Homo sapiens: one gene and its partners. The protein of the gene in region 1 purifies or fractionates together with the protein of each later gene. This does not show direct contact. Each region holds a gene or a part of one and is shown in the gene's direction. Other genes may lie near its edges. The genes, in order: RNF185, TMUB2, AMFR and BRI3BP.

Evidence for each region.
Region 2: the proteins of RNF185 (region 1) and TMUB2 purify together in Homo sapiens (affinity purification with western blotting; 3 studies listed by BioGRID and IntAct, with this or other methods). This does not show direct contact.
Region 3: the proteins of RNF185 (region 1) and AMFR purify together in Homo sapiens (affinity purification with mass spectrometry; 3 studies listed by BioGRID and IntAct, with this or other methods). This does not show direct contact.
Region 4: the proteins of RNF185 (region 1) and BRI3BP purify together in Homo sapiens (affinity purification with mass spectrometry; 3 studies listed by BioGRID and IntAct, with this or other methods). This does not show direct contact.

Annotation. Positions count from the first base shown.
Region 1 is NC_000022.11:31,198,155-31,205,190, forward strand, and holds part of RNF185 (E3 ubiquitin-protein ligase RNF185), read left to right. Parts: intron 1-3,343; coding exon 3,344-3,461; intron 3,462-6,334; coding exon 6,335-6,432; 3' UTR 6,433-7,036. UniProt on the Homo sapiens protein: E3 ubiquitin-protein ligase that regulates selective mitochondrial autophagy by mediating 'Lys-63'-linked polyubiquitination of BNIP1.
Region 2 is NC_000017.11:44,183,059-44,189,989, forward strand, and holds the start of TMUB2 (transmembrane and ubiquitin-like domain-containing protein 2), read left to right. Parts: upstream 1-3,913; 5' UTR 3,914-4,051; intron 4,052-4,144; exon of another isoform or gene 4,145-4,617; 5' UTR 4,618-4,650; coding exon 4,651-4,685; intron 4,686-4,848; exon of another isoform or gene 4,849-4,943; coding exon of another isoform or gene 4,944-4,951; intron 4,952-5,876; exon of another isoform or gene 5,877-5,963; coding exon 5,964-6,530; intron 6,531-6,931.
Region 3 is NC_000016.10:56,360,952-56,366,545, reverse strand, and holds the end of AMFR (E3 ubiquitin-protein ligase AMFR), read left to right. Parts: intron 1-2,440; coding exon 2,441-2,625; intron 2,626-3,489; coding exon 3,490-3,637; 3' UTR 3,638-5,094; downstream 5,095-5,594. UniProt on the Homo sapiens protein: E3 ubiquitin-protein ligase that mediates the polyubiquitination of lysine and cysteine residues on target proteins, such as CD3D, CYP3A4, CFTR, INSIG1, SOAT2/ACAT2 and APOB for proteasomal degradation.
Region 4 is NC_000012.12:124,989,027-124,996,664, forward strand, and holds the start of BRI3BP (BRI3-binding protein precursor), read left to right. Parts: upstream 1-4,618; 5' UTR 4,619-4,764; coding exon 4,765-4,977; intron 4,978-7,638. UniProt on the Homo sapiens protein: Involved in tumorigenesis and may function by stabilizing p53/TP53.

The DNA of each region.
Region 1 (7,036 bases):
TCTGTTTGCTTTAAAATTTAATTTTGGCAGGTTTTCCATGATGCTCTGAAGTGTCCTCTTTATTATTTAGGCTGCCATTTATCCTATTGAGTTTTTTATTATTTTTTATTTTTCCATGCTATTGCTGGGAACCCATTGAGTTTTGGTTCATTGTAATTTGGGTTTTCCTCATCGAAGGACCTTTTAGTTGTTTCCCCATTTTGCTGTTTAAATAATGCTACAATAACCATCTTTGCACACTTTTTTTTTTTTTTTTTTTTTTGAGATGAAGTTTCACTCTTGTTGCCCAACTGGAGTGTAGTAGTGCGATCTCGGCTCACCACAGCCTCTGCCTCCCGGGTTTAAACAATTCTTCTGCCTCAGCCTCCAGAGTAGCTGGGATTATAGGCATGGGCCACCATGCCCAGCTAATTTTTGTATTTTTAGTAGAGACGAGGTTTCTCCATGTTGGTCAGGCTGGTCTCGAACTCCCAAGCTCAGATGATCCGCCCTCCTTGGCCTCCCAAAGTGCTGGGATTACAGGCGTGAGCCACCGCGCACTGCCACTTTCTTTTTTTTTTTTTTTTTTTTTTTTTTTGAGTTTGAATAATGGCATTTTATTAGGATTTCCAGGAGTAGGATTATTGAGTCAGGGATCTTGAAAGAAATTAAGGTTCTCGGCTGGGCGTGGTGGCTCACACCTGTAATCTCAGCACTTTGGGAGGCTGAGGCGGGTGGATCACCTGAGGTCAGGAATTCGAGACCAGCCTGACCAATATGGTGAAACCCTGTCTCTGCTTTCTTAAAAACATAAAAATTAGCCGGGTGTGGTGGCATGTGCCTGTAGTCCCAGCTACTCGGGAGGCTGAAACAGGAGAATCACTTGAACTCGGGAGGCAGAGGTTGCAGTGAGCTGAGATCACACCACTGCACTCCAGCCTTGGCGACAGAGCAAGACTCTGTCTCAAAAAAAAAAAAAAAGAAAGAAAGAAATTAAGGTTCTCTTCTCCGGATTACCCTTAATAATAATACTAGCAGTGAACACTTGTTGAATGGTTACTATATGGAAATAACTATATGTTAAGAGCTTTATATGCATGATCTCATTTAAGCCTCACATCAACTCATTTAACGGAGGAGGAAACTGAGGCCCAGATAGGTAAAGTGATCTGTCCAGGGCCACACGTACAGTGCTGAAACCCAGATCTGGCTGGTATTGAAGTCTCTGCTCTTGACCACCAGGTGACACCACTTTAACATTCCTAGGTTTTGGTTTCCTACAGAGCATTAGCAACTAATGCAGGAATCAGAGGCCCCCAGAAGCCAGAGGCCCTGGCCTTGTTGACCAAAGTGCATACCTCTAGCATTTATAAGCACCTGCAGCTACTAGCGATGTTTTTTTGCATACTCTGGCCCAGGAACATAATCCCACCAAATGTATGGACTGGTGAGATCATAAAGATGTTGCTAGAAGGGAAGCAGAACGGTTAGTCCTCAGGATTGCACTGAATGAATCTGTGGTTCCTGATGAAACAATTGCACCTTCCCAAGTAAGGCAGCCTCAGTCCCAGGAGCCATTAGATTCAACCATGAACTGAGTAGGAGGCATTTTGTATTGAGGAGATGGAAACTCTTTGTTTTCCCTCCCTTTAGGTTTGCCCTCTCATTAAGTCAGCTGTTAGGCTTTATAGGTGATGCCATCTGGCAAGAAGTTTGGAACTAGATGCCAGGCTGATCAGTGTGTGATGGAGAGCAGCTATTTTTGTGACTTGCAAAAAACTCATAAATGAAGGCCATTGAGCTCTTTGTGAAGAGCATTTGACCCAATAGTCTGTCTGCTTTTTATTATTTTTAAAATCATTTGTTCTAAACCTCTCATCAGGGGTGCAGGGGAAGAGAAAAAAATATTTGAAAGATGCGCACAGTAATTAAGAGCATGAAGGCCGGGCACAGTGGCTCTGGCCTCTAATCCCAGCACTTTGGGAGGCTGAGGTGGGAGGATCACTTGAGCCCAGGAGTTTGAGACCAGCCTGAGCAACAAAGTGAGACCCTATCTGTACAAAAAATTTAAAAATTAGCAAAGCATGGAGGGGTACACCTGTGGTCCCAGCTACTCAAGAGGCTGAGATGGGAGCATTGCTTGAGCCTGGGAGGTTGAGTCTACAGTGAGCCATGATTGCACCATTGCACTCCAGGCTTGGTGACAGAGCGAGACCCTGTCTCAAAAAAAAAGAAAAGAAAAAGAAAAGCATGTGTTTTCAGATCAAATTGACCTAGTTTTAGATCTAAACTGTACTCCTTGGTCAAGTTATTTCACCTCTCCAAGCCTCAGTTTGGTCATCTGTGAAATGCAGATGAAGCCAATGTAAAAATTAAACATGATTTATATGTCCTAGTGCTTAACATGGTGCCTAGCACAGAGCTCACGCTTTAAAAAAGGGAGTTATTTATTCACAGTATTGTTCCTGCTGAATCTTTTCATGTGAAAGATGATGCAGTGTAGAACATGCACATGGAAAGAAAACTGAGGGTGATATACCAAACTGCTGATAGTGGTTATTTCAGAGGTAAAGTGGAGTGGCTGCGAAGTGGGAAGGTGAATAGAAGATCTCTGACTCTGTCAATTATTTCTGTAATATGTGAGTTTCTTATAGCAAGTATATATTACTTTTATAACCAGAAAACATTATAGTGTTTTAAAATGTAAAAATTCTATGTAACAGTATTAAAAGAAATTTTAATCCGTAACTTGTCCATATACCTACATATTGTCATGTAGTTGTGACCACAGTGTTCAAACAATTTTGTCTGATAACTTGGTCACAAGAGTTGTTCAGTGTTACCGCTTAAGTCAGGGTAATGGTTCTTTGAATGCATGTATCAAGATTTTGATCATGACTTCCATTGTTGGCTAATTAGAGTTTCAACATTTTTGCTATTAAAGATAATGTGTAGCTTGTTTGATGTTCCCTTGGGCACAGGGGTGGCTGTCAATATTGCTCCTATAAAGCATGTAGAAGGTGTTACTAGCTAATGTGGGACTATGGAAAATATCCTCAAGCCCTGTGAGTGCTGACTTATGTCAGCAGAGTGTTTCACACTGGGTCAGAGCCAGTCCTTTTTGGCCCATTCATAGATTCTTAGCTGGAAGCTAAGGCTAAAAGGGCAGAGGGCTTGCCAGAGTTCCTCTACTTCAGGGTATATATGGGAGGAAAAGCTGTCCCCCACCTTCGAAACATGTGGCACAAGGTAGGGAGAAGAGGCAGGTGCCACATGCAAGACAACGTGAGGTATGTTGAGTTTTGACAGGCACAGGAGAAACCTGCCTGATTCTCCTGCCCTTAATTGCCTTTCTTCCACACAGGGATTTCAAGGATTTGGATTTGGAGATGGTGGCTTCCAGATGTCTTTTGGAATTGGGGCATTTCCCTTTGGGATATTTGCCACAGCATTTAATATAAATGATGGGCGGCCTCCTCCAGGTAAGACCCTATTTCCTTGAGAAATTAGGAAGATATCTTAGTAATATTGCTTGAAAGCTCCTTGGAATTCAGCAGTATATAAGTTACAGATAATTGTCACTACATGGATAATCAGCCTTTTCAAAATATCTTAAGCTGTTTTTAGATCACTTACAGACATGGTAACAATGCTGAGCACTTACCAACTATTAGGCATGCATATATATAGCACTTTCCATTCCAAGCTCAGGGGATCATCACAACCACCCTATGGAACAGGTGTGTGATTAGCTGCGTTTAACAGATCAGAAAATGCTCAGTAATGTTACCAAGACATACCCCATGTCTATAAAATGGAAAACTGTAAGTGATACTCAGCTGAGGAAAAGCCTAGTTCTGCACATTTACTTCCCACTTTGACCATTTGGGGGCCTGGAAATGTGAGATGACCCATAAGGAGTGAAGGCATCTCCATTCTCTGGCATCTCTGTCTAGCTTCCTTCAGGACACAACATGAGGCTGGTCAGAAGCAGCCTCAGCCCTGTGGGAACCATGCCTAGGTCTACCAACTGCTGCTGCAGTTCTCCCTCCTACTGCTTGAAAGTGCCATCCGCATTCGGTATAGAGCCCTTGCTCTATAGGTGCAAGCCACCTCTATGAGGTGGGTGCCTTGAACTCTTATCACAGTCTGACACCCAAGCCAAGATCCTTACTGTGGAGCCTGCAGAGATGCCATGATCGGTTGAGCTCTGCCTGCACTTGTTGGAGCTTCATGTGCACTGGACACAGCATATGGTACAGAAGTGACCATTGTGTGGTTCACGCCAAGAGCTTATGCCCTAAAGATGGTAACTGGGTCATCCCAGTTATTCTCATCCCCACCCTGGTCCTTGGTACACAGCAGGTGATCTATAAGTCTTTCTTGACTGCCTGCCTGCCTGCCTGTCTGTCTTCGTGAATCCATCAGAGCATCTAGCTGAGGAATCTCAGCACCAAGATATCTTGGGAATGCCTTTTTTTTTTTTTTTTTTTTTTTGAGATGGAGTCTCGCTCTGTCCCCCAGGCTGGAGTGCAGTGGCACAATCTCGGCTCACTGCAAGTTCCACCTCCCAGGTTTACGCCATTCTCCTGCCTCAGCCTCCCGAGTAGCTGGGACTACAGGCGCCTGCCACCACGCCTGGCTAATTTTTTTGTATTTTTTTGTAGAGACAGGGTTTCACTGTGTTAGCCAGGATGGTCTCGATCTCCTGACCTCGTGATCCGCCCGCCTGGGCCTCCCAATGTGCTGGGATTACAGGCGTGAGCCACCGCGCCCGGCCCTGGGGATGCCCTTTCTTACTTTATCTGCCTTGAAGGTTTATCCTCTGTTCACATTTGTTTTTCAGAGGAAGTATACCCCAAAAGATAGGGTGTACTCTGCCCTGAAGAAAGGGCAAATTCCTGTGAAGCCAGCAAGAACCTGCCTGATAGCTTGCATCCTTCTAACCTGGTCGAAGGCTAACCTTGGATTCCCCAGCTAAGCAGAGTTCCACAGCCAGGCTAGACTCTGGATTACTTTATCCCCCTGCCACAGTCACAGTTTTCCCTTGTCATGCTTGGTACAATTTGCCCATCCTGGACACAGATTCTTTTATCCTCCTTCCCCCAAAGTCAGGACAGGGAGCTCTAAATGGTAGCTTTTCCTAAAGCAGAGAGGAGTGGAGACTTAGGTTCTCACCCCAGTTCTGCCTCTACCTTGAAAAACAAGTCATTTTGCCTGTCTGGATCCTAGTTCTCTTCTGGAAAAGGAAGGCAATCCCTGTGGGGCCCTTGAGAGGCAGTGTGTGGAGAGGCTGCAGAGCTCTGCCACTAATTTCTGAGCCTTTCAATCTTGAACAGGTCACCTCAAACCTATGTTTCAGCTGCTTCCTACTCAAAATGGAAATAATAATATCCACCAAATAATAACATGTACAAAACACTTAGCAGATAGAAGATACTTAACAAATAGTAGGCTTGCTTTCATTATTTCCTGCAAGAGTTTCCTGTTAATCACCTGGTTTATTTGCATGTGCAGGCCAAACCTTTTATGATAAATTGGACCGTGTCTTGTCCTTATTGTTATTGTTCCACATAGTTTCATTTTGCCTGATATTATTTGGGGTTTAGAAATTTTTTTTGGCTGGGCGCGATGGCTCATGCCTGTAATGCCAACGCTTTGGGAGGCTGAGGTGGGCGGATCATCTGAGGTCAGGAGTTTGAGACCAGCCTGGCTAACATGGTGAAACCCTGTTCCTACTAAAAATACAAAAAAAAAATTAGCCGGGTGTGGTGGTGCGTGCCTGTAATCCCAGCTACTCAGGAGGCTGAGGCAGCAGAATCGCTTGAACCTAGGAGGTGGAGGTTGCAGTGAGCCGAGATCGTGCCATTGCACTCCAGCCTGGGCAACAAGAGCAAAACTCCACCTCAAAAAGAAAAAAAAAAAAAAAGGCCAGGCATGGTGGCTCATGCCTGTAATCCCAGCACTTTTGGAGGCTGAGGCAGGCGGATCACAAGGTCAGGAGTTCGAGACCAGCCTGACCAACATGGTGAAACCCCGTCTCTACTAAAAATACAAAAATTAGCCAGGCTTGGTGGCGCACACCTGTAATCCCAGCTACTTAGGAGGCTGAGGCAGGAGAATCGCTTGAACCTGGGAAGCGGAGGTTGCAGTGAGCTGAGATCGTGCCACTGCACTCTAGCCTGGGCAACAGAGCGAGACTACATTTCAAAAAAAAAAAAAAGAAATCTTTTTGTGTGTAGGATTCTGATGTTGTAAAGAGATAAAGATTGATGCTGTCAACTTCTGGCCTGAGTGGGCAGTGTGCATAGCTGCAGTGTTCTAATAGCCTGTTTTCTCCTTTCTGTCTCTCCAGCTGTCCCTGGGACACCCCAGTATGTGGACGAGCAGTTCCTGTCACGCCTCTTCCTATTTGTGGCCCTGGTGATCATGTTCTGGCTCCTGATTGCCTAATGCTGGGCTCCTGCCTACATCCGTGGCAGGGCTCTGGACTGGTGACGTGCCACCCCAACTCCTGGTGTTTGGCTTCCTGGCTAATCTTGACTCCTGGAATCAGTGGGATCAGTAACACATCAAGGAGTCTTGTTTCTTCATCAGAGCTTTGGAACTCGAGACCAGTTGGCGATGACCCCTGAATATCGCCACCGCTGTAAACACTCTATAACTTCAGGCCTTGGCATTGAGTCATCTCTCATGGGTGACACCATGAAATCTTGTTTCAGCCAGTTCTGCAGGTCCTGACTCTGCAGAGGGAAGAGGCAGAAAGAGAGAAACTGTCAGAGTATAATTTCACCTGAGTTTAATATTACAGAAACAAAGGGATGCACCAAATGGTATTTCTGGAAATTTTCATGTCTTTAAATACCCCTTGGTAAGTTGCTTCTGAAGCCAGTGGGGGCTCCTCAGATAGAGAGGTTCCCCTTTCAAATCCCAGTGCCGCTCTGTTCTCTTTCCTTCCCCTCCCACTCCCCCTCTTCTTCCTCTGTAGAGATGCAAGAAATTGCTGTCCCATAAAAATCATAATTGCAGTAGCTAAAGCTGGGGTCACTTCGTGAAT
Region 2 (6,931 bases), on another chromosome or scaffold:
TGCACTCCAGCCTGGGCGACAGAGTGAGACCCCGTCTCAAAAAAAAATAAAAAAATGAATAAAAATAACAGAAACACAAAGCCTCTCATAGACCCAGAACCTATAGTACCTATCACAGGAGGGAACTGGGGAGGAGCTCCCAGCAGTCTTCTCCTGAGTCAGCAGTCTTTTTGCTGAGGGATCCTAGGGTCTCCAGTCCCAATACCAGTTGGAGTTATACAGTGGAGACAGGGATCCAAAGTCCTGGGGTCTGCCTCCTGCTGCAGCTGCCCAACTTTCCCTCCTCCAGGAGAGTTATATCTTTGGGATTCCATTTCATCAACACAAAGACAGTTTTTTCACCTTGTTATGCAGAATGCAACACCCCCTTTCTGGATGAAAATTTGTGCTTTAGTTTTACAGAGCCAAAAGGCCTGACAGAAGAAAAAGAACTCCTCCCTAGAGAGGGAGGCTGGGAGCCTCACTCTCAGGGGCAATGCTGAACTTTCTACCCCTTTACAGCACGCCGACCACAGCCAGCTCAGCCTTTTCTGATATATTTACAACTACAAAAGATACCGTTAAAAAAGAAAAATACCTGGGTGCAGTGGCTTACGCCTGTAATCCCAGCACTTGGGGAGGCCGAGGCGGGTGGATCGCCTGAGGTCAGGAGTTCAAGACCAGCCTGGCTGACATTGTGAAACCCTTTCTCTACTAAAAATACAAAAAGTAGGCCAGGCGCGATAGCTCACGCCTATAATCCCAGCACTTTCGGAGGCCGAGGCAGGCAGATCACCTGAGGCCAGGAGTTCGAGACCAGCCTGGCCAACATGGTGAAACCCTTCCCTACTAAAAATACAAAAATTAGCCAGGTGTGGTGGCACACACATATACTCCCAGCTATTCAGTAGGTTGAGGCAGGAGAATCACTTGAACCTGGGAGGCGGAAGTTGCAGTGAGCTGAGATCTCCCACTGCACTCCAGCCTGGGTGACAGCAAAACTCGTCTCCAAAAAAAAAAAAAAAAAAATCAGGATACAAGGCCAGGTGTGCAAATCCTGTTGGTGGACAAATCGCCTCTTTGGGGGCAATTTGGCCACTTCCTTAAACACTGTTCCCAGTTACACAAAAGGCAGGCTACATACAGGAATATTCCTCTCAGCGTTGCTTGCAACAACTCATGTTGGAGTGGTTAGACAAATCCATATTACCCATGGCAGGAAAGAACTAGGGAGGGATTCCAAGTGACCAGCATGTGTACTGCCTTGGGAAGATCTCCCAGAGTGGTTTTTATTGATTGATTGAAACGGGGTCTTTCTGTATGCCAGGCTGGAGTGCAGTGACGCAATCACAGCTCACTGTAGCCTTGACCTCCTAGGCTCCAATGATTCTCCCACCTCAGCCTCCCAAGTAGCTGGGACTACAGGCACACACCGCCAGGCCTGGCTAATTTTTAAATTTTTTGTAGCGACAGGGTCTCGCAATGTTGCCCATGCTGGTTTCAAACTCCTGGACTCAAGTGATCCTCCCACCTTAGCCTCCCCAAGTGCTGCAATTACACTCTAGAGCCACCATGCTCAGCTGAAGACAATTATTTTCCTTTACATTTTTTTTTATTTTGAGACGGAGTCTCACTCTGTCTCCCAGGTTGGAGCATAGTGGCGCGATCACAGCTCTCTGCAATCTTGACCCTAGGGTCAAGCAATCATCCCACCTCAGCCTCCTGAGTAGCTGGCTCATGGCTCACTGCAGCCTTAACCTCCTAGGGTCAATCATCCCACTTCAGCCTCCTGAGTAGCTGGGACCACAGGCACACGCCACCATGCCCAGCTAATTAATTTTTTTTTAGAGATGGGGGTCTCACCATATTGCCCAGGCTGGTCTTGAACTCCTGGCTCAAGGGATCCTCCTGCCTCAGCCTCCCAAAGTGCTGGGATTACAAGTATGAGCCACTGTGCCCGGCTTTGTGAATGTACTTAATGCCACTGAATTGCAAACTTAAAAATAGTTAAAATGGTTTTAAGTTTTATGTTACGTATATGTATATATTTATCTTTAGAGATAGAGGTCTCCCTGTGTTGCCCAGGCTGGCCTTTAACTCCTGGGCTCAAGTGACACTGCTGAGTCAGCCTTCAGAGTAGCTGGGACTACAGGTGCATGCCACTGTGCCTAGCTATGTTTATTTTACCACAATGAAAGGACTTACAAAAAAGAAGCTAGACACCGAAGAGGATACACAGTTGGATTCCATTTATAGCAAGTACAAAAACAGGAAAAACTAATGTATGGTGACAGACGTCAGAATAGTGATTACTCTTTGGAGGTTAATGGCTAGAAGAAGACATGAAGGGGGAGATTCTGGGGTAATTCTTTCTTTTTTTTTTTTTTCCTGAGACAGAGTCTCGCTCTGTCACCCCAGCTGGCGTGCAGTGGCTCCATCTCAGCTCACTGCAACCTCCGCCTCCCAGGTTCAAGCCATTCTCCTGCCTCAGCCTTCTGAGTAGCCAGGATTACAGGCGTGCGCCACCACGCCCGGCTAATTTTTGTATTTTTAGTAGAGACGGGATTTCACCATGTTACCCAGGCTGGTCTTGAACTCCTGACCTTGTGATCCGCCTGCCTTAGCCTCCTAACGTGTTGGGATTACAGGCGTGAGCCACCGCGCCAGTCCTAATTATCTATTTCTTGATCTAAGTGCTACTTCTGCCAGTGTTCAGTTGGTAGAAGCCACCGAGCTTTTTGCTTATGTTTGCCCCTGTCTGGATTATTTATCCTTTAATCAGTAGTTCTCCAAAACCCCAAACTCCAGCGCTTTTTTTTTTTTTTTTGGAGACAAGGCCTCCCTGTCGGGTGCAATGCAGTGGCTCAGATCATAGCTCACTGCAGCCTCGAACTCCTGAGCTCAAGCGATCCTCCCACCTCTGCCTCCCAAAGCGGTGGGATTACAAGAGTAAGCCACTCCCCCCGGCCACAGTAAGTTTTTAGAAAAAATTTTAATTGCGGCCGAGCGCGGTAGCTCACGCCTGTAATGCCAGCACTTTGGGAGGCCGAGACGGGGGCGGATCACCTGAGGTCGGGAGTTCGAGACCAGCCTGACCAACATGGAGAAACCCTGTCTCTACTAAAATACAAAATTAGCGGGGCGTGGTGGCGCATGCCTGTAATCCCAGCTACTCGGCAGGCTGAGGCAAAAGAATCGCTTGAACCCGGGGGGGCGGAGGTTGCAGTGAGCCGAGATCGCGCCATTGCACTCCAGCCTGGGCAACAAGAGCGGAACTCCCGTCTCAAAAAAGAAAAAATTTTAACTGCAAAAATCTGGATAAGTTCTTGAAAGCTGGACTTTTCCCCCTTTTTGTGTCCTAAGCCTGCGCCGAATCTGTGCCTTCTTTGAAATGCTTTCCCGCCTTCTTTCTCCGGGTCCCACACTACCTGGGGCCGCACTCTTCAAGCACTGGATGCTGACTAACTGGTCTCCTTATCTGTCTTCCCGACTGGCCCAGAGCTGAGTTCTTACTAATCCCCGCTAACCTGGAGTTAGGTGCGCGTTGCAAAGCAGTAACGAATCCAATCAGCCGGGGAGGCAGACAGCAGGGCCGGAAGAACAAAGCTGGAAAGGGAAACGTCGCACCGGCTCTGCCCAGCGGCGCCAGCCCGGGCAACCTTCCGCAGTCGCGAAGCCACGCCCCTTTCCCAAGTACCTCCGCGCTAACTCCTCCCCCCTGGCCCCGCCTCTCACCCTGGATTGCCTAAGGCCCCGCCCACCAGGCGTGGCCCCGCTCTGGGAGGGCCGCAATCCCGCCAACAATGACTCCACCCCTCCTTCCGCTGAGAAACCTGTCCCTTTTATTTAAAGAATACCTTTTACGTCAGCCCGTCTTACGCAGCTTCGCGTCATCAGTGCAAGGCGCGGAGGCGGGACTTCCTGTCCCTGGTATAACAGCTTCCGGGAGAAGCCGGAAGAGACCGGACCCTGAACAGAATCGCAGATTGCCAGCCCTTTTCCCGACCCCTACGGAAAGACGAGTCCAGGGGCCGTCCTGGCGAGGTCAAAACATTTAGTCTGGTCTTTTCAGGTGAGGACTTCCCCATCCAGGCACAGTGCCGGTCCAATCCCCCTTTAATTTCCCATGACTCCTCGCGTCCTGAAGCCCCGCCCCCAGTTCCCCAGCCCCGCCCCGAAGTTTGAGGGGTGTGGACGGTTTGTGACCCCCTTAGCCGACCCTACTCCTCACTGGCCGGGACAACTGGTCTTATCACGGAGGCTGGGGCCAGGCAGCCCTTCGGTTCGGGTGGGCCCATGGACCCCAGTCCAACGCCGAGGGAATAGGACCATCCAAAAGCGGAACCTTCGCCTCAGAAAAAGGGTGCGGGACCCCTCCTCACCGTGCGGTCACGGTACGGACAGGGTAGATCACAGGCTGAGGGACAGAGCAAAGACCCCTGAGGCCGGACACCTGGGGTCCTGCCGGGCCCCTCCCCACGAGAGTTCCCTGTGTCTGTGCCAATCGTTTTCGTCTTTCTTTGCCGCAGTTTCTTTTCCTGTAAATCATGGTTAATAACATTAACCTTCTTACCATCAGGGGTTAGTTGTGGTTGTGATAAATAATTACTACCGTTATTAAGCAATTGCAATTTGCAGTGTGCCAGGCACTGTGCCAAGTATTTTGCTTCGATGATTTCACGTCATCTTCAAAACAACCTCATGAGGTAGGTACTGTTTTTAACCCCATTTTACTGATGAGAAAGCTGAGGCTCTGAGAAAGTTGTCTGAGGTGTTATAGCTAGTAAGACGCAAGACTGGGGTTATAATTAGTTGTTTTTCTAACTCCAGGGCCGGTATATTAAATAAGGATGTTGATGTGTTCCACAGATAATTCTTTGAGCAACTACTGGGGCATTATATTGGACACTTCAGTACCAAGAGAAATACATACGATCCTTGTCTACCAGGAGTCTAATAGAAAGATGGACAGGTACATAAGTATAATGAAGTTTTATAGGTGCTGTGAGAATAGTCTGATAATGGTAATCACCAGACTGGATTTGCCCAGGGACAGCTGTGAAAGCAGCAGATTCTCCAAGGGAAATAGTAGGTACTCCAAGGAGCAAGCAGGGACCCTTCCTGCCTTTCTAAGAAACTGCAGCAGCAGAACCTTCACAGTGAAAGAAGAGAGACTGAGATATGGATTGTGAGAGCTGTTATGGAATCTTTTTCAAATCACTCCACTTGGGGAGTGGTCATTGCAGGAGTGGGCCCATGGTGACCCAGGAAGGTGGTGCTTCTGGTGTCTGTCCCAAGTTGCTCCCCAGGGCTTGCCAGAAGTTTCAGAGGCGGCACATAATGTCTGCTGCATAGTATCTGCCCGCGGTCCCTACAGAGTTATCGTTTTAGATTTGTCTGACTCTGCTTTTGATGGTAGGTCAGTTTTCTTTGGCTCTTGACATCTGGCAGCCTGGATCTGTGACCAGGAATGAAATAGGCTCAAATGAGACAATCTGGCAGGGATGGCTAAACAGTGCTTCCAGGGGGGCCCCACAGTAAAATATTCCAGGCTTTTGGGTCTCTCTGAAGCCACTTTGGAGGCTGCTTAGGAGGCATATTTGCTTGACCAAGCGATAGAAATCCTAGAGAAACTCAGGCCTCAGCAAAGATTTTTCCTCATTCACCAAAAAAGCAACAACAGTAGCAGCAGCAGCAAGGCTGTGGGCTTTTCCTGCTGATCCACACTCATTGGGAAGTTGGAGTTTGAGAGAGGAAGGTCACAGAACGTGAAAGCAAGAGTTTCACAATAGAGGCAAAGGGTAGGGTAGGTCTTTAGGTTTAGGTTGGGGTGCCGGAATTAGGAAGGTTTGTGCCCCCTTCTACACAACACTGAACTCCTTTTTTTTTTTTTTCAGGGCTGGGTCAGTTAGAACCTAAACAAACTAGAGACCTGGTTGCAACCCCTCAGGCTCTGCTGATGCTGTCCCCCTTTGTTCCTGCAGCGTGGACCCTGCCAGCAGCCAGGCCATGGAGCTCTCTGATGTCACCCTCATTGAGGGTGTGGGTAATGAGGTGATGGTGGTGGCAGGTGTGGTGGTGCTGATTCTAGCCTTGGTCCTAGCTTGGCTCTCTACCTACGTAGCAGACAGCGGTAGCAACCAGCTCCTGGGCGCTATTGTGTCAGCAGGCGACACATCCGTCCTCCACCTGGGGCATGTGGACCACCTGGTGGCAGGCCAAGGCAACCCCGAGCCAACTGAACTCCCCCATCCATCAGAGGGTAATGATGAGAAGGCTGAAGAGGCGGGTGAAGGTCGGGGAGACTCCACTGGGGAGGCTGGAGCTGGGGGTGGTGTTGAGCCCAGCCTTGAGCATCTCCTTGACATCCAAGGCCTGCCCAAAAGACAAGCAGGTGCAGGCAGCAGCAGTCCAGAGGCCCCCCTGAGATCTGAGGATAGCACCTGCCTCCCTCCCAGCCCTGGCCTCATCACTGTGCGGCTCAAATTCCTCAATGATACCGAGGAGCTGGCTGTGGCTAGGCCAGAGGATACCGTGGGTGCCCTGAAGAGGTGAGTGGCCTGGGAAGTGGGAAGCTGCTTGTGCTCATCCCCCAGCCCTTGGTTGCCTCTAAGGAGGCTGGTGCAGACATGGGAGCTGCAGCAAAGTGTAAGATCCAGCCCCTACCAAGGGCAGGTAGATACTTTCTTAGAAATACACCCTTCAGGCCGGGTGCAGTGGCTCCCGGGACTTTGGGAGGCCGAGGCGGGTGCATCACGAGGTTAGGAGTTCGAGACCAGCCTGACCAACATGGTGAAACCCCATCTCTACTAAACATACAAAAATCAGCCGGGCGTGGTGGCGCACGCCTGCAATCCCAGCTACTCAGGAGGCTGAGGCAGGAGAATCGCTTGAACCCAGGAGGTGGAGGTTGCAGTGAGCCGAGATTGCGCCACTGCACTCCAGCCTGGGC
Region 3 (5,594 bases), on another chromosome or scaffold:
TACAAAGAGGAAACAGTAAACACTACTAGGCCTTCTTCAAATCTGTTGCTGGGTTAAGATTTTCATATCCACCTATGTAATTGGATTATGCATCATTTGTGAAATGGTGCATGGCTTCTAAGGGGTCCATGTCTACATTTCCAGTTTTTTTTTTTTTTTTTTTTTTTTGAGACGGAGTCTCGCTCTGTCACCCAGGCTGGAGTGCAGTGGTGCGATCTCGGCTCACTGCAAGCTCCGCCTCCCGGGTTCACGCCATTCTCCTGCCTCAGCCTCCCGAGTAGCTGGGACTACAGGCGCCCACCACCACGCCTGGCTAATTTTTTGTATTTTTAGTAGAGGCGGGGTTTCGCTGTGTTAGCCAGGATGGTCTCGATCTCCTGACCTCATGATCCGCCCGCCTCTGCCTCCCAAAGTGCTGGGATTACAGGCGTGAGCCACCGCGCCCGGCCTCCAGTTTTTGAATAGCTGGCGCAGCTGAGATATGGATGCTGTGGGCTTGGGGGCATCTGTGGGTACAGCATATTCAGTCCCTGTCTTGATTTTCCACTGCTGCTTCTAGAGTTAGCATGAAGAGTTCTGGATTTTATATATATATATGTATATATAATGGAGGAAAGTATGTATTTCACAGGGAACCTTGCTGTGCAACATTTTTGGTCATTTGTGAAGAAATACAAAGTCCTTGAATAACAATTAGTTAACAGAAACCTCAGTGTAGCCCAGTAAGCTTGTCAGCTCCACTCTCCCTCTGTTCTAATCTCTGCCCTGCCCCGCTCAGGCTGGTATTAGTCAGGCATGCAGCTGCACAGAGCAGGGGTTGCGGTGGGCGGCTGTTTTCTTTCTAACATCTCGCCTCTTCACTCACCATTTTTTCTAACCTGCTCTAGGGTCAGGCTTAGAGGAGAGGGATAGAATAGGACAGTGAGACTCCAGCGTGTGTGTGCGTGTGTGTGTATGTACCTACATGTTGTGCCAACTACGTGTGTCTGTGTGTGTGTGTGTACATGTTATGCCAACTATCTCCCTGTCCCCATCTGGCCCCAGAAACTCCTCCTTTGACCCTGGGCTGGCTATTGATGACCACTCCCACCTTCATGGGGGTCCTGTTACCTCTCCAAGTGGTCCTTTTGGGCACAGTTGTTTTCAACAACCTTAGGTTGGTTCCCTCCTGCAGGAGCCCTATCCAAGCTCCAGGACACACACAGTGTTGTCTGGAGTCAGTGGAAGGTGAACGTGCTCCCGTCACAGCTCCCCTGGCCCTGTATTTTATTGGCTCCTGCCAGTTTCTTTCTGTAGATTTCTCAAGTGTATGCAGCCACCAGTTCCCCCGTCCTTTGACTCTCGGGGATACGAATGGTTCTCTTGAAGTTCCCTCTCGAGCTTAGCTGAAGGCAGGAAAAAGTGAGGGTAGGTCCAGCAGGAACTCTGAAGTAAAACAGCCTGCCTCTCAGCTGCACCCACCTCCATTCTGTCACAGCCTAGAAGCGGGCAATGGGCTGACCCTGGCCAGCGCAGGTCTGCATCTGGGAGCATGAGCAGCGCAGATGGTCAGGCACCTGCTAGGACCTGGGGGTGCCTGGGCATTGTCGTGGACTTTGGAGCTTCAACCAAAGCCAAGGAACCATATAATCCATCCTGTGTCTTTTCAAAAGATCCTTAGGGCTGGGCACAGTGGCTCATGCCTGTAGTCCCAGCACTTTGGGAGGCTGAGGTGGGTAGATTGCTTGAGTCCAGTAGTTTGAGACCAGCCTGGGCAACAAAGCAAAACCCTGTCTCTACAAAAAATACAAAAATTAGCCAGATGTGGTGGCACGAGCCTGTGGTCACAGCTACTTGGGAGGCTAAGTTGGGAGGATCCCCTGAGCCTGGGGAGGTTGAGGCTGTGGTGAGCAGAGATTGTGCCACTGCACTCCAGCCTGGGTGACAGAGTGAGACCCTGTCTGTAAATAAATAAATAAATAGATGCCTAGCAGTTTTCCTTTTTACCTCTGTTTTCAGAGTCAATTGAGGATATAAAATTTGTGCAGAAGATTGGATAAGACTGGTTTAAATGTTTGAGCAATTAGTAGAAGTGAACAGAAAATTCCCAGGATGTAAACTCACGGTTGTCGTGTTGGTAGCGTATTCTAAGAGTGCAGCTTGAAGGTGCTTACGTTTTTCATGCTGGTAATCATTTACTTACCCTCTGATGCCGAACATTCTGTGTGAGTCAGGTCCTGTTCTTAGTACTACTCAAGCCATAGGCAGCAGGCCTGCCCTCAGGGAAGCTGCTGCTCCATTATCCGTAGCTTGTGGTTCCTAGTTTCTGCCTCCCTGCTTGGCAGCAGCCTTCTCTTTGCGTCCAGAACAGCCGTGTCTGGGGTGCCCTGTAGGTGAGGAACCTGCTTAGGAGGGAGGCCTGTGCTCACAGCTGCCTCCTTGCTTCCTGCCCCGTGTCCAGACCGAGCGTGTGCCACTGGACCTCAGTCCTCGCCTGGAGGAGACGCTGGACTTCGGCGAGGTGGAAGTGGAGCCCAGTGAGGTGGAAGACTTCGAGGCTCGTGGGAGCCGCTTCTCCAAGTCTGCTGATGAGAGACAGCGCATGCTGGTGCAGCGTAAGGACGAACTCCTCCAGCAAGCTCGCAAGTGAGTCGCTTCTCCAGACCACCTGGCATAATCCAGATCAAAAACTAGTGGCTGAAGGCCGTTGTCAGGCCGTCTTCTCTTTTTAAACAGATGCCAACAGTGAAACGGCATTACATGCCACCCCAAAACTCAGATTTCAAGCCTCTCTTGAAAAAACCAGAGCATCTGGTAACACTGGGCCCCACTGGTCTACCTCTGATGCTGGTACTGTCAGTCATCTCCCATGGACCCCTTTGGCCACGCTTGCCGAGAGAGCACTTGTGTGCTAACCTGATCTAAGCCCTTTATATGAATTACTTTAACAGCTCTAAGAGGGAGCACTGTTAACCCATTCAGCTGACATACAGCTGAAGAAATGGAGGCTGGAGAGGTTAGCACTGGCCTGGCCCTGGCGTCTGTCTCCCAGGTCCTCCCTGTTGACCACTCTGCCTTTCAGCTGAGCATTGTACACACACTCAGCGCATCTGTGCGTCACACACCCATGGTTGGTGGCAGCTACAGCAGGTGTGTCCTGTGGATAGAGGGGGTTTTGTTCCAGCTCTTAAGGACAGGGCCAGCACTGTGTTCCTCAAGTGGGTTTGGGCCCTGGCAGACCCTGTGATTGTGGGAGTTCTGTGCTGTGTCTGTGGGTGGAGGGGATGGGCAGGAAGAGACAGCAGGGAACAGCACTGAAGGGTTCCTCCCTGGTGCAGAGAGAATTTGCGCCCATCTGTTGGGGGCTGGATGTCTTGGTCATTGGGTGGTGCTGAGTGACAGCTTCATGAAGGTGCCTGGACATGGGGAGATGTGAAATCAACCTTCTGGCTGTGTTCCACAGCTCCCCATCTCTCCTATGAGAGAGAAAAAGTCTTCTGTTTTTTCTAGACGTTTCTTGAACAAAAGTTCTGAAGATGATGCGGCCTCAGAGAGCTTCCTCCCCTCGGAAGGTGCGTCCTCTGACCCCGTGACCCTGCGTCGAAGGATGCTGGCTGCCGCCGCGGAACGGAGGCTTCAGAAGCAGCAGACCTCCTAGCGCTCCCTTGCCTTCCTCAGCTGCCTCCTGCGCCCTGTGCCCGACTGACTGGAGGAGGCCTGTCCCAATTCTGCCCGCTCCATGGAAAAGCGGGCTTGACTGCATTGCCGCTGTATAAAGCATGTGGTCTTATAGTGTTTGGACAGCTGATAAATTTAATCCTTCTTTGTAATACTTTCTATGTGACATTTCTCTTCCCCTTAGAAACACTGCAAATTTTAACTGTAGGTATGATCTCTTCTGGTGTTGACTGGACTGCTTGGGGTGGGGGACGATCAGGAGGAAGTGAGCAGTCGCCTGCCTGCAGCAGGCAGCTTCTACTCCTGCCTCATGCGTACGTCCCACAAATGCAGGTGTCCTGAGCACCACACCCAGTGGGAAGAGTGTGGGGGAGGCGCACAGTGTGAGCCCGCCCCCACGTCGTGGGGTAACATCTGTTATCAAACTGCTGTCGTTGTTGTGGAAGCATGTAGACTGTGCCAGAGGCCAGACCCACGGGCTCATGCACCCCTGAGCCAGCAGGGCATCTTGGAAAAGGAACTCTTGGTTCGATACCTGGAGCAGAGGAGGGGAAAGTCCAGGGCTATAGGGTGTGATGAAGTCACCCCTTTCTGTCCCACTACATCTGGGACTGACTTTCCGAGCCTCCAGTCCAAAGCCGGCTTGATTTCCGTGAACTCTGGTGCTCCTGCATCTCATGAGTGTGCCCCATGGGTCCCCTCCCCTCTCAGCATTTCCTTGTCCCGTCTGGACCTGGGGAGTGGTTAGGCAGCAAGCTTTGGTTTATGGTTTTCATTCATTGGTGAAGTAAATTAGGCAGTGCTAAAGCCTGTGGGTTTGGTCCTTGAACAAGATGTGGGCCTTGCAAGATGGGAGAGTAAACCTTGAAGGGCTTTATTAAAGAAATAAAAAAGAACTTTTGTATCTTTTATCCTGGGAGCACTGCGTTTTCCTAGCTGTGTTATTCCTGGTTTAATTCAGCAGAGAAGGTAAGGTGTGAACCTACCTGCCTTGGAGAGGGCCCAGGTCCCAAATCTCTTCAAATTCTTCACATGTTTAACTTTAAGGATTTGAACCATGAAGTCATAGGTTACAGACCTCAGTTTTATGCCCCATTGGATTACTTTTTTTTTTTTTTTTTTTTTTTTTTTTTTTACTCTTTGAAAGCTTTGTTTTGTGGTAGTCCTTTTGGGAAGAATCCAGTATTATCCACAATTATTGGCAAAGTTTAAATGTATTTTACATAACGGAAAGTTTTTAGAATGTTGAAAAGTAATTGAAAAAGGTGATAGGTAAATTTTTAGGCAAAGATAATTTATTTCAATAAATCTTTCAAAAGCCTTACCTTGAAATGCTGTTAGTAAATTTCTGTGATTTTTTTTTTTAATTTGTTTTGCTGAGAGCATAGCTATTTGTTTTTATTGTAAAACAATAATAATAATAAAAAGCAAACTCTATTGGTGTGTTGTGTGTGGCTGGAAGCTAAGGCATGTTTTTGTGTGGCTGGAAGCTAAGGCATCTTTTTCCAGAGGTGCCAACGTTAAACCCCATTTTGATTTGGATTTTGTGTATACTATTTTGGTTGGAGGGTTTTTTCCCATGTTTTTGAATTGGGAACTTTTGTTTTTCCTAGTAGTGTATTTGGGGAAGGCAGAACTACATTTTTCTTCCCCTTGTATTTATATCTTTTTTTTTTTCAGGTAAGTGTGTAGCGAAAGATTATTTTACTGTCCTCGAATTACATTATACTTCACACGTTGCACCCATTGTAGGTGCCACTAATTCCACATGTTCACAGGTTTCTGATGTGTGAAAAGAGAAAATTACTTGGATCAATTTTAGAGGGTCTTGACACATTACAAAACAGCCATATCACAGTGTTTAGAGCAGGAGCTTATTAAGTAGCTTAAAATGATGCAAGAAGTGAAGTTCTCAGTCCGCCCTTCCATTTTACACC
Region 4 (7,638 bases), on another chromosome or scaffold:
ACTAGGCCAGGGTGGGCGCTCCAGCGGCCGGACCAGCAGAGCAATCCGAAACCCAGCCCACGTGGGTTCCCAGACCACCAACTCCGGCCGTGAGACTTCCGGGTTGTGTTATCGCGAGAACTGTAACTGACTTTGCCGCTGAGGGGCGGGGTTGCAAGAGAAACCCAGCGAAGAGGAGAGGCGGAGCCGGGCCGGGCAGGGGGCGGGACTATTTAGAGAAGTAGGCGGGGCCTGAGGTCCCAGCGGAGGCCGGAGTTTAAGTCCTGGGCTGTTCTCGCTTGGGGTAGTCTGGGTTTAAATATGAATTATATCTACTGATACTAATTTGGCTTCTTGGGAGTGGAAGTGTTTTGCCACCTTTTAAAATATACCCCGCCCCCAGTACTCCAAACTTCTTCCCCCCAACCCTGGTTTGCGCATCTGTATTTTCTGATATTCCTACAAGAAACGTATTAGTCGTGTACTTTTAAAAAGGCACCAAATATTTCCATCACAGGGATAGATGGAAGATCTAAAAGGAGGCCTCTACGGGCGCGGTGGCTCACGCCTGTAATCCCAGCACTTTTGGAGGCCGAGGCGGGCGGATCACGAGGTCAGGATTTCAAGACCAGCCTGGCCAAGATGGTGAAACCCCCGTCTCTACCAAAAATACAAAAAAAATTTAGCTAGGCCTGGTGGCAGGCGTCTGTAATCCCAGCTACTTGGGAGGCTGAGGCAGAGAATTGATTGAACCCGGGAGGTGGACGTTGCAGTGAGCCGAGACTGCACCACTGCACTTCAGCCTGGGCAACAGAGCTAGACTCTGTCTCAAAAAAAAAAAAATAAAGTTGTCTATTACATAACTTTAAATTCCCATTACCGCATCACATTGTAACACACTGGGAAACAATGCATTATTATTATTATTGAGACAAGGTCTGGCTTTGTTGCCCAGGCTGGAGTGTAGTGGAGCAATCTCGGCTCACTGCAACCTCTGCCTCCCGGGTTTAAACGATTCTCCTGCCTCAGCCTTCCGAGTAGCTGGGACTACAGGTGCCCGCCACCACCCCCAGCTAGTTTTTGTATTTTAGTAGAGACGGAGTTTCACCATGTTGGCCAGGCTGGTCTCAAACTCCTGACCTCGTGATCTGCCTGCCTGGGCCTCCCAAAGTGCTGGGATTACAGGCATGAGCCACCGCGCCCGACTTTTTTTTTTTTTTTTTTAAGAGATGAGATCTCGCCCTGTGGGCCAGGCCAGAGTGCAGTGGTGCAATCACCACTCGCTGCAGCCTTGACCTGTCCTCCCACCTCAGCCTCCTGAGTAGTTATGACTACAGGCACACACCACCACGACGGGCTAATTTTTCTATTTTTTTGTAGAGATGGTGTCTCCCTATGTTGCTTAGACTGGTCTCAAAATTCTGGGCTCAAGGGATCCGTTTGTCTCGGCCTCCCAAAGTGCCGGAATTACAGGCATAAGCCACTGTGAAGGCCTTAATGAATGACGTTTAAAAAAATCATAATTAGCGTATCAAATCTATGGGGTTTTTTGTTTGTTTGCTTGTTTTTGTTTTTTTGAGACAGAACTCTCCCTCTGACGCCCAGGCTGGAGTGTAGTGGAGCAGTCTCGGCTCACTGCAACCTCCACCTCTCGGGTTCAAGCGATTCTCCTGTCTCAGCCTTCCAAGTAGCTGGGATTACAGGCACCCACCAAGATGCCCATCTAATTTTTGTATTTTTAGTAGAGATGGGGTCTCACCATGTTGGCCAGGATGGTCTCAAACTCCTGACATCAAGTGATCGGCCCACCTTGGCCTCTCAAAATGATGAGATTACGGGCCTGAGCCACTGCACCCAGGCTCAAATCTGTGTTTTTATGGATTTTGTTGCTCAGGATGATAGTGATCTAAAGTTTCTTCTTTAAATATGTTTATTTAAATAAATTAAAAGTTTAAGAAACGTTTAAAAAATGTTAAGTAGGTAGTAGTACACTTGCCTATATTTCCTTCTAAAATATAATATATCAGTGAATTACCTTCCAGAAGGTATAGACCATTCTAGACAGCAAGAAGAAGGCAGATACATAACAGCATGGATGGATCTCACAAATATAAAGTTGAACAAAAGCTGGGCGTGGTGGCTCACGCCTGTAATTCCAGCACTTTGGGAGGCCAAGGCAGGCGGATCACCTGAGGTCAGGAGTTTGAGACCAGCCTGGCCAACATGGCGAAACCTGTCTCCACTAAAAATACAAACATTAGCCGGGTGTGGTGGCGCGTGCCTATAGTCCCAGCTACACGGAAGGCTGAGGCAGGAGAATCGCTTGAACCCCGGAGGCGGAGGTTGCAGTGAGCCGAGATCATGCCACTGCACTCCAGCCTGGGCAACAGAGCAAGACTCCGTCTCAAAAAATAAAAAATAAATAAAAAAAAAAGTTGAACAAAAGAAGCCAACCCCCAGAGTACTGTGTGGTTCATTTACATAAACTTCAAACACAGGCAAATGAATCCCCTAAATTTTAAGAGGAACATAGTGAATGGGAGGGGACAAAGGGAGGCTTCGTGGGGGAACTGGTAATGTTTCGTTTCTTGATTTGGGTGCTGGTTACCTTGGGTATTCAGTTTGTGAAAATTCATAAAAATTTATATGATTGTGTATTTTTCTGTATGTTATACCTTAATTAAAAAGTTTATTATTATTATTATTATTATCATTTTTTATAGAGATAGGTTTCACTATGTTGGCCAGGCTGGCCTCGAACTCCTGTGTTCAAGCAATCCTCCTGCCTTGGCCTCCCAAAACAAGCTTGTGCCACTACACCTGGCGTAAAAAAAGGTTTTTGTTTTGTTTTGTTTTGTTTTTGGGACGGAGTTTCACTCTTGTTGCCCAGGCTGGAGTGCAGTGGCTTAGTCTCGGCTCACTGCAACCTCCGCCTCCCAGGTTTAGGCGGTTGTCCTGCCTCAGCCTCCCGAGTAGCTGGGATCACAAGCAGGCACCACCATAACTGGCTCATTTTGGATTTTTTTTTTTTTTTTTTTTTTTTTTTGAGACGGAGTCTCGCTCTGTCGCCCAGGCTGGAGTGCAGTGGCACGATCTCGGCTCACTGCAACTTCCGCCTCCCGGGTTCACGCCATTCTTCTGCCTCAGGCTCTGAGTAGCTGGGACTACGGCGCCCGCCGCCACGCCCGGCTATTGTATTTTTAGTAGAGACGGGGTTTCACTGTGTTAGCCAGGATGGTCTCGATCTCCTGACCTCGTGATCCGCCCGCCTCGGCCTCCCAAATTGCTGACCTTGTGATCCGCCCGCCTCGGCCTCCCAAAGTGCTGGGATTACAGGCGTGAGCCACGGCGCCTGGCCTCATTTTGTATTTTTAGTAGAGACGGAGGGATTTCTCCATGTTGGTCAAGCTGGTCTCGAACTCCCGACCTCAGGTCACCCGCCTCAGCCTCCCAAAGTGCTGGAATCACAGGCGTTAACCACCGCACCCGACCTACAAAAAAGTTTTTAAAAAGATAAACAATACAGGAAAAAATGTGCAAAGGATATGAATAGGTAATTCACAGAGAAGTAATTCAAATGGCCAATAAATCTATGAAAATCTTACTAGGAATCCAGAAAATGTAAATTCAAAAATAAGAGCATTTTGTATTCTTTGGATTGGCAAAAATTGAGTTTTATTTTCTTGGTTGTCTAAAAAAAATGTTGGTTAGACTTGATTTGTTTGATTTAGGATGCAAACAGGGTCCTTGCATTGCATGGGTTATTATGGCTCTTAAGTCTTTAAAACCAATTATCCTCCTCTTCGCTCACCTTTTATACCAATTATTTATTGAACAAACTGGGTCGTTTGTTTGGTAGAATGCCCCACATGCTGGAGTTGGTTGGTTGCTTCTGCTGCTTCTAAGTTTTCCTTATCTGCCATATTTCCTGTAAACTGTAGGTTTGATCTAGAGGCCCCATCAGGTTCATGCTCAACTTGTCTTGGCAAGAATCCATCGCAGGTGGCGCTGGTACTTCCTGGCACTAAGATCGATTGGCGGGACCGGGACTTCGCGGCTTAGCCCCTCCATTTTCAAGTTCCCCGCCAAACCCTCCCCTCTTGGTTGTACCCATTTCTGATGATCATCGCGTGAATCCATCATTCTATTGAGGGGTGCCAAATAATTTTCGGATTCTCTCATTCATCCTCATGTATTAGCTGGACTTTGTAAAAGAAAGTCCCTCCCCAACTATTTTGGGGCTCTGAAATACAGTTCATTCAGGAAGGGCAGGAGGATGCCTGATGCTTTCTTGTTATTTAAAATTTTCAGGATGAATGAGCTGATGCCCACGAGGGCGAATTTTGGGGTACCATTATAATACATTCAGGGAGATTACATATATGTCTATTTCATGTTTTTCAATCAGTTGCAGTCACTTTCCTGGTTGAAGCTGTTGCAAGTTTTACAGGCACGGGTTGCTTTTCCACGGATAAGTTAAAAAAGAGAATTTTTTTTTAAATGATGAGAAGCCGCACCGGGTCGGGGCAGGCTTCCGGGAGGCGGGCGCGGGGCCCCGGGGCCGGGTCGCGTTGGTCCCGCGCCGGGGGCGGGGCGCGGCGTGGGCTGGGCCGTGCGCCTTTGCGCGCGGGGCGGGGCAGGTGGCGCAGCAGCGGCGGCGGCGGCTGTGGGTAAAGGCGCGGCGCGCGGCCCCCGAGCGCGCCAACCTTGCCCTAGCCGGAGCCCGCTGCGGCCCAGCGCACGGCCCTCACCCCGCATCGCGACCCCGCGCCCCGCCGGCCGAGCATGGGCGCGCGCGCCTCAGGCGGGCCCCTGGCCCGGGCCGGGCTCCTGCTGCTGCTGCTGCTGCTGCTGCTGCTCGGGCTGCTGGCCCCGGGCGCGCAGGGGGCGCGGGGCCGCGGCGGCGCGGAGAAGAACAGCTACCGCCGCACGGTCAACACCTTCTCCCAGAGCGTCAGCAGCCTGTTCGGCGAGGACAACGTGCGCGCCGCTCAGAAGGTGGGCGCCGGGCCCGCGCCCGCGGTCACCTTGCCCCGGTCGCCACGCACCTGGCTACCGGGGCCGACCTGGGAGGAGCGCGGCCTCCGGGGCTGCCCGCCCGGCCAGCGCGCGGGAAGAGGGGGTCCGGCCTGCGCCTCGGGGCCTGCCGCCTGCGGCCCCCGCCGGGCCTGACCAGTGCGGGTCTGGGCGGCCGGGCCTCGGGGCGCCCTCTCCTCTGCGCCGCGCTTCTCCTTGGACCTTGCCTCCGCGGTCGGCGCAGCCAGAGTCTCTCCCGGCTGCGCTGACGCCTGCCGCGCGTCTCATTCATTCATTCACCGCGTTTGAATGGCTCCTACTGTGAGCCAGGCAGCACACTGGCGCTCTCGGTCCCCACGCGGCTGCGCCCTCCCCAGCTACCCCGGGTTTGTCCTAGCCTCGCATCCCGACCCACTTCCCCTGGGACCTTCTGCCCCACTCCTCCTCCTGCTTTGAAGATACTTGGAGTTGTTTTTACTTTACAGGAAAAGAAGGGAGCAATGCGATTTGCTCGGTGGCTTTGGGAAACCGAGCACCTACTGTGTGCGGGGCCTTTCGCGTGGAGCCTTTTGTTTAGTTTGGGGAGGTCCCGGATCCTGCAGCCTCCTGGGAAGGGTGTTGAGTCCCAGGAGGATCGCAGGGGGTTTTCCCCAATTCCTGCTCTCTGGAGCTAGGTGCGATAGGGGTGCCATTCCGGGCCGAAGTCCGCCGACTAGCTCTTGAGAAGGAGGAAGTTACTGGGGACAGTTGTGTGTGGTATTGCGGTTCCTTTGCTGTTCCCTGGGGAGGAGGGGGCTCTTGCTTGCCGCCAGCCTTCCTGGGGTTTTGGAGTCAGAGAAGTTTGGGTTCAAGTTGGAGCTCTACCAGTTGGATGACTTTGGGGAAGTGACTTCACTTCTTTGAGCTTGTTTCTTTATTTGTTAAATGGGGATAGTAATCATTCCCCTTCATTGCGAGGTTGTAATTATGACTAGTTGGTACCTTCCTGGCCCAGAATCATGGCTAAAAAGTTAAAGTTTTCTGCTCATTGAGAGGGAGTGGGGAATAGAAGGGAATATGAAGGCCGAAATCAGATTGACTGCATGTTCTTACTGGATAACATGAAAGGTTAATTTGTTAGGAAAACAGTAAGTTTTGACCTCCCTCTCCTGTGGGCAGGGGCACCTCTTGCACAGGTGGGTCTGTGTCTTCATACATGTAGGGGAGAGAACGCTTTGTAGGTGGCCAAAGAGGGGCAAGGAAGCAGGGCTGAACGCCTGAATGTGAAAAGGTTGCCCTGGAGTCTGGCGCGGGAAAGGATCAGGGGTGTGAGTGCAGGGAGTCTCACTTACTTCCTCTTGATGCCGTTTCGGAGCTATTTGAAGGCAGAAATCATTTGTTTTAGAGCAAAAATAAGCCTGTCTTTTTCACGCAGGGTGACCACAGGATCCCCATGTCTCAACTGACGGTGGTTCCATGTGACAATCTAAGGCCAACAAACATGAAATACGAGTGGTTATTTAAGACTTTTACTTAAATAAGACAATCTGTATTCTGGCAGAGCATCTCCGAATCTGGGGGTCAGAGCTCTTCCTGGGCTAAACCGGGGTTTGTGCCTTTAATAGAGATACTAATGATTACTAAGTGCTTTTGTAGATAGAATAATCTTATGTAATCCTTAGAATGACCCTGTGCAGTAGGTACTGTTACTGTTCCCATTTGACAGATGAGGAAACTGAGACACAGAGCAGTGAAGTGGCTGGTTTCAGGTCAGATGAGTGGCAGAGCCAGGATGTGAACCTAGGCAGAGTGGACATGGAGCCCACATTAGTATCTCTCGCCTGTTTTCCTGCTTCATGACCCCTTCCCTGTTCCCCGAGTCAGTACAGCATCCAGAGGCTGACCTGACTTCTTTCCTTTTTGTTTTTTTGAGACGGAGGTCTGGCTCTGTTGCTCAGGCTGGAGTGCAGTGGAGTGATCTCGTCTCACTACAACCTCCACCTCCCAGGTTCAAGCGATCTTCCCCACTCACCCTCCCAAGTAGTTGGGATTACAGGTGTCCACCAGCATGCCTGGCTAAGTTTTGTATTTTTAGTAGAAAAGAGGTTTCACCATGTTGACCAGTCTGGTCTCAAACTCCTGACCTCAAGTGATCCTCCCGCCTCGGCCTTCCAAAGTGCTGGGATTACAGGTGTGAGCCATTGCACCTGGCCTGACTTATTTTATTTCCTGCTGAGTGTAGCCCACACTGGCCAGGCTTGGGGATATTGTTTTGTTAATTTTATGGGTTTTTTTTTAAATTTAATTAATTAATTTATTTTTTGAGACAGACTCTTACTCTGTCACCCAGGCTGGAGTGCGTTGGCACGATCTTGGCTCACGGCAACGTCTGCCTCCTGGGCAAGCAATTCTCCTGCCTCAGCCTCCTGAGTAGCCGGGATTACAAGTGAGTAGCCGGGATTACAAGTGAGCACCACCACATCCGGCTAATTTTTTATGTTTTTGGTAGAGATGAGGTTTCATCATGTTGGCCAGGCTGGTCTCAAACTCCTGACCTCAAGTGATCTGCCGACCTCAGCCTTCCAAAAGTGCTGGGATTACAGGCGTAAGCCACCGTGCCCAGCCTGTTTTGTGAATTTTAAATAAAGGAAAACTGGGTCTGCC